Regions from separate parts of the Homo sapiens genome. Here all the other regions are linked to region 2. Evidence: fine-mapped expression QTL. A gene starts in region 2. Each other region holds a variant in brackets. All regions are shown on one strand. Distances are between the middles of the regions. Region 1 overlaps STARD7-AS1 (STARD7 antisense RNA 1). Region 2 holds the start of TMEM127 (transmembrane protein 127). Region 3 has its middle 45 kb from the start of NCAPH.

Region 1 (4,172 bases), 23 kb before region 2:
GGGCTGCACTCCTGCAGGACTAAAGGAGGCTTTCTCTGGTTGAGGGCTACCATGGCTGGGCGGGTGAGCCTGCCTCCTAGTGGGATTTGCATTAGCAGCTCACTTAGTTCACAGGTCTAAAGCTGTGTCCTCCAGCCCAGCCCTCTAGCAGTAATTAAGAGGATATTTTGGTTCCTGTTGCCACTCCTTTGTTTTATTTCTCAGGGCCCTCAAAGACACCCCAGAATAGATTTCCTGTCCCCTTTAATCTTGCCCTTCTTTGAGTCCCCATTGCATTTTATGGTATATTTCTAGCATGACCTTTCATTCTTTCAGTAATTACCTCCTTATTTCCTTCACCCCTGCATTTAAAAAAAAATTTTATAGATGAGGTCTCACTCTGTCACCCAGGCTGGAGTGCAGTGGTGCAATCATAGCTCGCTGCAGCCTTAAACTCCTGGGCTCAAGCAGTCTTCCTGCCTCTGCCTCCCAAGTAGCTGGGACCACAGGTGCACATGACCATGCCCAGCTAACTTTTTTTTTCTTTTTTGTAGAGACGGGAGTCTTACTTTGTTGCCCAGGCTGGTCTCAAACTCCTGGCTTCAAGCAATCCTTCCACTTTGGCCTTCCAAAGTGCTGGGATTACAGGCATGAGCCACCATGCCCAGCCTCCTTCTCTTACTAGCTGAGAACTAAGAGAAGACACTCTGGAGACAGAGGAGGAAACAGTGACGATGCCACATGATGAATACATAATGGAGGGTGAAGACAAGGCTCCGTCAGGGGCACCAAGGAGGGAAACCCAGTTCTGTGGGGAAGGTATGGGGCAGCTTCACAAGCCCAGTGTCTGCTCCCTTTGTGGGAGACGTGTTGTTTCAGCATCCATTCCCCCTTCTTTTAGGAAAAGTGCTTGAATTTCCTTTTCATGGAACCACCCACCTCCCTCTCATCCATGCATTCTATTCCCAGTATCAGGGGTAGACAAGTGACTTCAGGCTTGGCCAATTAGGGTTCTGACTCTTGGTCAAATCAGAGTGAATCCTGAGTCATTTGTAAACTCCAAGGAAAGGGCTTGCTTTGTTTTCTGTTGAATGCAGTGCTCTGAGATAGCCGGAAATGAAACTGCTCTCTTGCCACACTGAAGGCTAGAGAAGGGCCTGGCCAGGAAATGATGCCAGTGATCAGGGGTGGAGCTGGAAGAGGGGGAGTGAGGAGGCCCAGACATCTTGGGAGCCCCAAATTCACCTCAGGATTTAACTTCTCCGCTGCTCAGCCAATAAATTCCTTTCTTCCATGACTAATTTGAGTTGAGTTTTTAGTTTTTGCAACTAAAACAGCACTGACTAATACACCCTTAGGTAAGATTAGAGCAAGAATTTCCAATATCTGTGTTCTTCATCCTGAAATTTGGTGAGGATATCTAAGGTTCTTTTGTCTTTTAAAAGAATTCTGTTGCAATGGAAAGTATCAATCCATATTTTTCCATTTCTCCAAAATGTTTTAGTGTATATCTATGGGGCACAAACTTAATCTCTGTAGGCCCTCTGCCATAGTTGCTCTGTGCCACTTGATAAGGGGCTGGTATCTAGAATATATAAAAACTCTTAAAACTCAGCCGGGCATGGTGGCTCATGCCTATAATCCCAGCTCTTTGGGAGGCCGAGGCAGGCGGATCACCTGAGGTCAGGAGTTTGAGACCAGCCTGGCCAACACGGTGAAACTCTATCTCTCTAAAAATACAAAAATTAGGCGGGCGTAGTGGCTCACTCAAGACTGAGGCAGAAGAACCACTTGAACCCAGGAGTTGGAGGTTTCAGTGAGCCCAGATGGCTCCACGGCACTCCATCCTGTGCAACAGAGTGGCACAGGATGGCAAAAACAAACAAAAGCTCTTAAAACTCAACAATAAAAGACAACCCACTTTAGAAATGAGAAAAGGGCCAAGTGTGGTGGTAATCCCAGCACTTTGGGAAGTTGAGGTGTGTAGA[T/C]TGCTTGAGCCCAGGAGTTTGAGAGCAGCCTGGGCAACATGGCAAAACCACATCTCTACAAAATACAGAAAAGAAAAAAAAAAAATCAGTCAGGTGTGGTGTTGCACACCTGTAGTCCCAGCAACCTGGAGGCTGAAGTGTGAGGATTGCTTAAACCTAAGGAGATAGAGGCTGCAATGAGCTGCGATTGTGCCACTGCACTCTACCTTGGGCAACAGATGAAGACGCTGTCTCAAAAAATAAGAATAAAGAAAGAAAGATGGGAAAAGAATTTATTTCTTTCCTTTTTTTTTTTTTTAGACAAGGTCTGGCTGGTCCCCCAGGCTGGAGTGCAGTGGTGCAATCTTGGCTCACTGCAACCTCTGCCTCCCAGGTTCAAGTGATTCTCCTGCCTCAACTTCCCGAGTAGCTGGTACTACAGGAGCAAGCCACCACACCCAGCTAATTTTTGTATTTTTAGTAGAGCCGGAGTTTCACCATGTCGGCTAGGCTGGTCTCGAACTCCTGACCTCAAGTGATCTGCCCACCTCGGCCTCCGAAAGTGCTGGGATTACAGGTGTGAGCCACTGAACCTGGCCTTTTTTTGCTGCTGTTGTTGTTCGTTTTGTTTTGTTTTTGTTTTTGTTTTGAGATGGAGTCTCGCTCTGTCACCCAGCCTGGAGGGCAGTGGCTCAATTTTGGCTCACTGCCACTTCTGCCTCCTGGGTTCCAGTGATCCTCCTGCCTCAGCCTGCTGAGTAGCTGAGACTACAGCCGAGACACCACCATGCCTGGCTAATTTTTTTTTTTTAAGTAGAGATGGGGTTTCAGCATTTTGGCCAGGCTGATCGTGAACTCCTGACCTCAAGTGATCTGCCCACTGCACCTGGCCTTTTTTTCTTTTTTTTTTAATAGAGATGAGTACAATGGACTTTAGGGACTCAGGGTAAAGGGTGGGAAGGGGGTGAAGGATAAAAGACTACACATTGGGTACAGTGTGCACTGCATAGGTGGTAGGTGCACCAAAATCTCAGAAATCACCACTAAACGACCTATTCCTATAACCAAACACCACCTGTTCCCCAAAAACCTATTGGAAAAAAAAAAACTCACGTAAGTAAATAAATAGAGGCCAGGAGCAGTGGCTCACACCTGTAATCCCAGCACTTTGGGAGGCCGAAGTGGGCAGATCACCTGAGGTTGGGAGTTTGAGACCAGCCTGGCCAACATGGAGAAATCCTGTCTCTACTAATAATACAAAAATTAGGTGGGCATGGTGGCACATGCCTGTAATCCCAGCTACTTGGGAGGCTGAGGCAGGAGAATCACTTGAACCTGGGAGATGGAGGTTGCAGTGAGCAAAGATCACCCCATTGCACTCCAGCCTGGGTGACGAGCGAAACTCCATCAAAAGAAGAAAAAAAAGAAAGGAAAGAAAGATGCGGTCTGGTGGTGCTGCCCAGGCTGGAGTGCAGTGGCTATTCATAGGTATGATCATAGTGCACTGCAGCCTCAAGACTCTTGGGTTCCAGTGGTCCTCCTGCCTCAGCCTCCTGTGTAGCTGGTACTACAGGCTACAGCTAAACTGCTCAGTTCCTCAGTCCTTCTTCATCTCCCACAGTGGATACAGAGCGTGGCAGCCCCCTCTCAGGAAGTCATGGATCTTTATGGCTGGCAGGACTGTAAAGTCACCCAGTTCAGCCCCTCATTTACATATAAGGAAACAGTCCTATAGAGAAGGCGTGCCTTTTTAAGTCACACATTTGAGCAAATAAATAATTATCTCCTCACACATTTAAGATTGCTATTACATCCTTTTCTCTAGAACTTTTAACCTTTCATCCACTCAGAATGCTTGCCTGGACCCTCTCCAATTTCTCAATATCTTTCTTTTTTTTTTTTTTTTTTTTTTTTTTTTGGAGACGGAGGCTTGCTCCGTCACCTAGACTGGAGTGCAGTGGCATGATCTTGGCTCACTGCAACCTCTGCCTCCCAGGTTCAAGTAATTCTCCTGCCTCAGCCTCTCAAGTAGCTGGGATTACAGGCGCCCACCACCACGCCCGGCTAATTTTTGTATTTTTAATGGAGACGGGGTTTCACCTTGTTGGCCAGGCTGGTCTCAAACTCCTGACCTCAAGTGATCCACCCACCTCAGCTTCCCAAAGTGCTGGAATTACAGGCGTGAGCCCTCGCGCCCAGTTCAACATCTTTCTTAAGTGGGCCCAA
Region 2 (4,172 bases):
TTTTCACCAAATCCCAGTGCCTGAATTCTTCAGGAGGTAACACGCAGATATCTAACAGGAAGTGCTTCTGATAGGCGGTGCAGTAAACATCTGGAATGCATCACAGCCAGGGAATAGCACAGACAGGATAGCACAGAGAGGATATAAGACCTTCAAGATGGCTCAAAAGACCTTGGGGTTGATGAACTATGCTGTTACTAAGGACTGTTTGGGGTACATTGATCATTGTTAGGGTAAAAAGCAGGTGATACAGTCCAGTCCTGTCCTCACACTTCACAATTTTTACTGGAGACAAGAATGGGCAGGATAAACTATGGGGCCCATAGGACCCTCCCATCGTCTGCTGTCTATCTGGCCGGAAAGCATGATGATGAACAAAGCAACCTTGCCTCTGTCAGGCACACCTATAATGGTTCCAAGAGCCACATTCCGACTGTTGTACTGCGGGTGGCAATGGAACGGTCTTCCGATTACCTAAAATGCCACAGATTCCCTTCTTCTCTAATACGCATCCGATTACCATAGAACTCTAAGATATCTTTTAAAACCTAGTCATATTAAAAGTTCCTTTTTCTCCATTAATCAGTCTGCCCCAAAGAAGCTTTTCCGTATTTCACAGGATCCTTAGAAGAGGCCAGCTAACTGTGATACCTAGCACCCTTATCTTTTCTCGATACACAGCGTCCTTCCTCCAGCAGAATCCTAAAATAGCAGCAGTCCGGATTAACATGGCTGTGAGGAGTAGGTGCTTAGCTGAATAACATCAGAATTAATGAGGGGCCGGACCCCAAACAGAGCCACCTGGTGGGCATGAACACCAGGCAGTTATGGGGCCGTTTCCTTCAACCAAGTGTCTGGTCCCTGGCTATCTCTGCTTCAGCCAGAACACATTCTGTCCCCCACCGAGGCTTTAAGGGCCAGCGCGCAGCACCCTCACCTTTCAGCAGGTCCGGGTGCACATAGCCCAACACGTCGGAGACCCCCAGCTCCTGGCGCGAACAGGTGCCTCCGTGGATGTGCAACCAGGCGGGCTCGGCGAGGGCAGTGCACAGCGCCGTGATAGACAGGGCGCCAGGCAGGGCCGAGGCCAGGCTACGCTCCGGCTGCTTGGGCAGAGCGCTGCCTCCCGGGCTCCTCCGCCGGCGCCCGCCGGGCAGCCCTGCGCCTCCGGGGGCGTACATGCCCGGGGCCGCCCGCCGTCGCTCCGCAGTCGCTGCTGGTCGCCGCCGACCTCCGCGGGGCGCGCAGAGCCTGACAGTCCGGTGGAGGATAGCAACGCTCCGGGTTCGCTGCAGGTGAAGCCGGGACTGGGCTGTCAGGGTTGACACCAGAGGATAGGGGGGTGGGACCCGGGGCTGACGGAGACGGGGAGGGCTGCGGGAATTCGGGGGGCGGAGACAGGAGACTCCGGAATGGGACTGCGGGACGACAACCGAAGAGGGCCAGGGGCCAGATGGGGTCTGGGCAGACTCGAGTGGGGGGCGGAGGGATCGGGGATCGGCTACTGCTAGAGCAAAGACCCGGAGTCAGGGTCTCAGCCAGAGGATGCCGAGGGGCGGAGGACCGGGCTGGGCCGCGGGGATCGGGGACCCGTGATCTGGGACCGGCGGTTTGGGGTGCGACCTGTGCGCAGAAAAGACCCTCCCCACGCCGCCCACTGTTCCTCACCAGTCAGCAGGCCCCAGGGCTGGGATGGTGCTGCTCAGCCCAGTCACGGGCTTCTCGGCTGCCGGGGGCCGAGCGTTCCCAGGCCCCAATCCCGCAACGCCCGGACAGACCCGGGGCCGATGCACTTCCGGCTTCCTCCTCCTCTGCCTCCGCCTCCTCCGGCTCCCCGCCCCGTCCCCCGCGCGCGTCACAGCCTGGGCGCGCCGCCGGCTCTGCGCAGGGCCTCACGGGACTGGTAGTTCGAGGCGGTCCCGCGATGCTTTCCCTGCCGAGGTGAGGGGAGCGACTACAACTCCCAGAGGGTATGGCGGCCGCAGCAGTGGGCAGTTGAGTTTCCGGGGCGACCCAGGTCCTCCGGCGGAAGCGGGAGCCTCTGTCGGCCGCGGAAGCCTGGAGTGGGCGGTACGCAGACGCGCGCGGTGAGACCCGCTGTCTGCTCAGCGGACTCTGCCCGCCCCCACCTCCCCCTGCGTCGGGCCGACATGAAGGACTCGCTGGTGCTGCTGGGCCGTGTCCCGGCGCACCCGGACTCCCGCTGCTGGTTCCTGGCCTGGAACCCCGCGGGGACCCTGCTGGCCTCGTGCGGCGGCGACCGGAGAATCCGCATCTGGGGCACGGAGGGTAAGGCCCAGCCTGGTTGCGCGGCCCTCAGCGCTGAGGGCTCAGCCTGCGCGTAGTGCAGGCGCTCAGCCTGCAGGGGAGGCTGAACCTGTTCCTGGCGGAGGGAGAGTGGGATGTTAGCCACGCCGAGAAGGGCTTTACAGGCAAAGAAGTCTGCGACTGTTGGGAGGAAAAACGTCAGCAGACAAGCTGAAATGTCAAGGGAATTGTGTTAGCTGCAGAGGCAGGAAAATGGGAAAAGAGAGGTGTTAGGAAAGTGGCCTTCAGAGTAACTTGCGACTGGATGGTCACATTTTATCCCGAGGGCATTGGGGAACCAATAGCAATTTTAGATCAGATTTGTTTTAGAAAGATGCCTCCAGAGGTTGGGCGCGGTGGCTCACGCCTGTAATCCTAGCAGTTTGGGAAGCAGAGGCGGGTAGATCACCTGAGGTCAAGAGGTCAAGACCAGCCTGGCCAACATGGTGAAACCCCGTCTCTACTAAAACTACAAAATTAGCTGGGCGTTGTGGCGGGCACCTGTAATCCCAGCTACTCGGGAGGCTGAGGCAGGAGAATCCCTTGAACCCAGGAGGCGAAGATTGCAGTGAGCCGAGATTGTGCCATTGCACCCCAGCCTGGGCATCAGAGCAAAAACTCCGTCTCAAAAAAAAAAAAAAAAAAAAAAAAAAGCTTCCAGACGAAGTAGATTCATTTGCATCTTTGTAAAAGCTGTGAAATACACTCCCTGAGCTTTCCCCCACTAGCTTGATTCCAGTGCTAGCCCCTGATATTGAATGGCTTCATGGTGCTGCACCCAGCTCCAGAGCCTGGCCTGCGCTCCGCCTTTAGGTGACAGCTGGATCTGCAAGTCTGTCCTTTCTGAAGGCCACCAGCGCACCGTGCGGAAGGTAGCCTGGTCCCCCTGCGGTAATTACCTGGCCTCTGCCAGCTTTGATGCTACCACTTGCATTTGGAAGAAGAACCAGGATGACTTTGAGGTACCCAGGCTGGTTGGGACCAGAATTATTGCCTGTTTCCTCCCCAGGGCTGGTTCAGGAACCTGAGCCAACCTGCGCCAGTTGGGCTGTACCCATGGGAAGGGGCTTAGGGGTGTTAGCTGCTGTTAATTCTCATTTTCTTTCCCCTTTCACAGTGTGTAACCACTCTCGAGGGCCATGAAAATGAGGTCAAGTCAGTGGCTTGGGCCCCATCTGGCAACCTCCTGGCCACTTGCAGCCGAGATAAGAGCGTTTGGGTCTGGGAAGGTGAGGCCAGGTCCCTCCAGGTGGATTGGGAACCACCTGACAGCCCCCTCTGTGTCCCTGACAGGGTCGGCTCTTGGGTCCCCTTTTTCTCTCCCACAGTTGATGAAGAGGATGAGTATGAATGTGTCAGTGTTCTCAACTCCCACACACAGGATGTCAAGCATGTGGTTTGGCACCCAAGTCAGGAGGTAAGAGTCAAGCAGGGACTCTTGTGGGAAGGGCTCTGGTGTGCAGGCTTGTGCCCAGCCTTCCTCTGCTTTTCAGCCTTAATCTAGCTTTTACGGAGAGTTCCATCTGTGAACAAAAAACATTAGTCCCTTTATAAAAACAGATCCGGCTGGGTGTGGTGGCTCACACCTATAATCTCAGCACTTTGGGAGGCCATGGTGGGTGGATCATCTGAGGTCAGGAGTTCGAGACCAGCCTGGCCAACATGGTGAAACTCCGTCTCTACTAAAAATACAAAATTAGCGGGCATGGTGGCACATGCCTGTAATCCCAGCTATTCGGGAGGCTGAGGCAGGAGAATCACTTGAACCCAGGAGACGGGGGTTACGGTGAGCCGAGATCGTGCTATTGCACTCCAGCCTGGGCAACAACAGCAAACTTCATCTCAAATAAATAATAAAATAAAAT
Region 3 (4,172 bases), 110 kb after region 2:
GCAGGGCGAGGCATTGCCTCACTCGGGAAGCGCAAGGGGTCGGGGAGTTCCCTTTCCTAGTCAAAGAAAGGGGTGACAGACAGCACCTGGAAAATCGGGTCACTCCCACCCTAATACTGCACTTTTCCGACGGGCTTAAAAAACGGCGCACCAGGAGATTATATCCCGCACCTGGCTTGGAGGGTCCTATGCCCACGGAGTCCCCCTGATTGCTAGCACAGCAGTCTGAGATCAAACTGCAAGGTGGCAGCAAGGCTGAGGGAGGGGCGCCCACCATTGCCCAGGCTTGCTTAGGTAAACAAAGCAGCCGGGAAGCTCGAAATGGGTGGAGCCCACCACAGCTCAAGGAGGCCTGCCTGCCTCTGTAGGCTCCACCTCTGGGGGCAGGGCACAGACAAAGAGACAGCAGTAACCTCTGCAGACTTAAATGTCCCTGTCTGACAGCTTTGAAGAGAGCAGTGGTTCTCCCAGCATGCAGCTGGAGATCTGAGAACGGGCAGACTGCCTCCTCAAGTGGGTCCCTGACCCCTGACCCCCGAGCAGCCTAACCGGGAAGCACCCCCCAGTAGGGGCAGACTGACACCTCACACGGCTGGGTACTCCTCTGAGACAAAAATTCCAGAAGAACGATCACACAGCAGCATTCGAGGTTCATGAAAATCCGCTGTTCTGCAGCCACCGCTGCTGATACCCAGGCAAACAGGGTCTGGAGGGGACCTCTAGCAAACTCCAACAGACCTGCAGCTGAGGGTCCTGTCTGTTAGAAGGAAAACTAACAAGCAGAAAGGACATCCACACCAAAAACCCATCTGTACATCACCATCATCAAAGACCAAAAGTAGATAAAAACACAAAGATGGGGAAGAAACAGAGCAGAAAAACTGGAAACTCTAAAAAGCAGAATGCCTCTCCTCCTCCAAAGGAATGCAGTTCCTCACCAGCAACGGAACAAAGCTGGATGGAGAATGACTTTGATGAGTTGAGAGAAGAAGGCTTCAGACGATCAAACTACTCCGAGCTACAGGAGGAAATTCAAACCAAAGGCGAAGAAGTTAAAAACTTTGAAAAAAATTTAGACGAATGTATAACTAGAATAACCACTACAGAGAAGTGCTTAAAGGCGCTGATGGAGCTGAAAGCCAAGGCTCGAGAACTACGTGAAGAATGCAGAAGCCTCAGGAGCCAATGCGATCAACTGGAAGAAAGGGTATCAGTGATGGAAGATCAAATGAATGAAATGAAGCGAGAAGGGAAGTTGAGAGAAAAAAGAATAAAAAGAAACAAACAAAGCCTCCAAGAAATATGGGACTATGTGAAAAGACCAAATCTAAGTCTGACTGGTGTACCTGAAAGTGACGGGGAGAATGGAACCAAGTTGGAAAACACTGTGCAGTATATTATCCAGGAGAACTTCCCCAATCTAGCAAGGCAGGCCAACATTCAGATTCAGGAAATACGGAGAACACCACAAAGATACTCCTCGAGAAGAGCAACTCCAAGAAACATAATTGTCAGATTCACCAAAGTTGAAATGAAGGAAAAAATGTTAAGGGCAGCCAGAGAGAAAGGTCGGGTTACCCACAAAGGGAGGCCCATCAGACTAATAGCAGATCTCTCAGCAGAAAATCTACAAGCCAGAAGAGAGTGGGGGCCAATATTCAACATTCTTAAAGAAAAGAATTTTCAGCCCAGAATTTCATATCCTGCCAAACTAAGCTTCATAAGTGAAGGAGAAATAAAATACTTTACAGACAAGCAAATGCTGAGAGATTTTGTCACCACCAGGCCTGCCCTAAAAGAGCTCCTGAAGGAAGCGCTAAACATGGAAAGGAACAACCGGTACCAGCCACTGCAAAATCATGCCAAAATGTAAAGACCATCAAAGCTAGGAAGAAACTGCATCAACTAACGAGCAAAATAACCAGCTAACATCATAATGCCAGGATCAAATTCACACATAACAATATTAACTTTAAATGTAAATGGACTAAATGCTCCAATCAAAAGACACAGACTGGCAAATTGGATAAAGAGTCAAGACCCATCAGTGTGCTGTATTCAGGAAACCCATCTCAGGTGCAGAGACACACATAGGCTCAAAATAAAAGGAT[G/A]GAGGAAGATCCACCAAGCAAATGGAAAACAAAAAAAGGCAGGGGTTGCAATCTTAGTCTCTGATAAAACAGACTTTAAACCAACAAAGATCAAAAGAGACAAAGAAGGCCATTACATAATGGTAAAGGGATCAATTCAACAAGAAGAGCTAACTATCCGAAATATATATGCACCCAATACAGGAGCATCCAGATTCATAAAGCAAGTCCTGAGTGACCTACAAAGAGACTTAGATTCCCACACAATAATAATGGGAGACTTTAACACCCCACTGTCAACATTAGACAGATCAACGAGACAGAAAGTTAACAAGGATACCCAGGAATTGAACTCAGCTCTGCACCAAGTGGACCTAATAGACATCTACAGAACTCTCCACCCCAAATCAACAGAATATACATTTTTTTCAGCACCACACCACACCTATTCCAAAATTGACCACATACTTGGAAGTGAAGCTCTCCTCAGCAAATATAAGAGAACAGAAATTATAACAAACTGTCTGTCAGACCACAGTGCAATCAAACTGGAACTCAGGATTAAGAAACTCACTCAAAACCGCTCAACTACATGGAAACTGAACAACCTGCTCCTGAATGACTACTGGGTACATAACGAAATGAAGGCAGAAATAAAGATATTCTTTGAAACCAACAAGAACAAAGACACAACATACCAGAATCTCTGGGACACATTCAAAGCAGTGTGTAGAGGGAAATTTATAGCACTAAATGCCCACAAGAGAAAGCAGGAAAGATCCAAAATTGACACCCTAACATCACAGTTGAAAGAACTAGAAAAGCAAGAGCAAACACATTCAAAAGCTAGCAGAAGGCAAGAAATAACTAAAATCAGAGCAGAACTGAAGGAAATAGAGACACAAAAAACCCTTCAAAAAATTAATGCATCCAGGAGCTGGTTTTTTGAAAGGATCAACAAAATTGATAGACCACTAGCAAGACTAATAAAGAAGAAAAGAGAGAAGAATCAAATAGACACAATAAAAAATGATAACGGGGATGTCACCACCAATCCCACAGAAATACAAACTACCATCAGAGAATACTACAAACACCTCTACGCAAATAAACTGGAAAATCTAGAAGAAATGGATAAATTCCTGGACACATACACCCTCCCAAGACTAAACCAGGAAGAAGTTGAATCTCTGAATAGACCAATAACAGGCTCTGAAATTGTGGCAATAATCAATAGCTTACCAACCAAAAAGAGTCCAGGACCAGATGGATTCACAGCCGAATTCTACCAGAGGTACAAGGAGGAACTGGTATGCTTCCTTCTGAAACTATTCCAATCAATAGAAAAAGAGGGAATCCTCCCTAACTCATTTTATGAGGCCAGCATCATCCTGATACCAAAGCCGGGCAGAGACACAACCAAAGAAGAGAATTTTAGACCAATATCCTTGATGAACATTGATGCAAAAATCCTCAATAAAATACTGGCAAACCAAATCCAGCAGCACATCAAAAAGCTTATCCACCATGATCAAGAGAGCTTCATCCCTGGGATGCAAGGCTGGTTCGATATATGCAAATCAATAAATGTAATCCAGCATATAAACAGAACCAAAGACAAAAACCACATGATTATCTCAATAGATGCAGAAAAGGCCTTTGACAAAATTCAACAACCCTTCATGCTAAAAACTCTCAATAAATTAGGTATTGATGGGACGTATCTCAAAATAATAAGAGCCATCTATGACAAACCCATAGCCAATATCATACTGAAAGGGCAAAAACTGGAAGCATTCCCTTTGAAAACTGGCACAAGACAGGGATGCCCTCTCTCACCACTCCTATTCAACATAGTGTTGGAAGTTCTGGCCAGGGCAATTAGGCAGGAGAAGGAAATAAAGGGTATTCAATTAGGAAAAGAGGAAGTCAAATTGTCCCTGTTTGCAGATGACATGATTGTATATCTAGAAAACCCCATTGTCTCAGCCCAAAATCTCCTTAAGCTGATAAGCAACTTCAGCAAAGTCTCAGGATACAAAATCAATGTACAAAAATCACAAGCATTCTTATACACCAATA

Evidence for each region. PIP is the estimated chance that this variant, and not a neighbour inherited with it, causes the effect. A credible set is the group of variants that fine-mapping cannot tell apart.
Region 1: its variant is the best candidate, but not a certain one, in a credible set for the expression of TMEM127 in whole blood (INTERVAL, PIP 0.51).
Region 3: its variant is the best candidate, but not a certain one, in a credible set for the expression of TMEM127 in blood mononuclear cells (TOPMed, PIP 0.61).

Annotation. Positions count from the first base shown.
Region 1 is chr2:96,241,344-96,245,515 of GRCh38, forward strand. It overlaps STARD7-AS1 (STARD7 antisense RNA 1), which reads left to right. Exons shown (of 4, transcript NR_046322.1): 4 at 534-1,280. Among named protein-coding and RNA genes, the nearest start is that of TMEM127, 23 kb to the right of the region's middle. RefSeq lists enhancers at 491-750, 771-820. The variant T/C (reference allele first, on the strand shown) is at 1,968.
Region 2 is chr2:96,264,201-96,268,372 of GRCh38, forward strand. TMEM127 (transmembrane protein 127) reads right to left here and starts at 1,797. Exons shown (of 4, transcript NM_017849.4): 1 at 1,669-1,797; 2 at 938-1,312. The coding sequence starts at 1,181. It overlaps CIAO1 (cytosolic iron-sulfur assembly component 1), which reads left to right and starts at 2,025. Exons shown (of 7, transcript NM_004804.3): 1 at 2,025-2,289; 2 at 3,121-3,269; 3 at 3,425-3,536; 4 at 3,636-3,724. The coding sequence starts at 2,151. RefSeq lists silencers at 1,057-1,366, 1,417-1,626, 1,637-1,686 and enhancers at 1,917-2,106, 2,337-2,616, 3,214-4,172.
Region 3 is chr2:96,379,150-96,383,321 of GRCh38, forward strand. No RefSeq gene overlaps it. Among named protein-coding and RNA genes, the nearest start is that of NCAPH, 45 kb to the left of the region's middle. The variant G/A (reference allele first, on the strand shown) is at 2,112.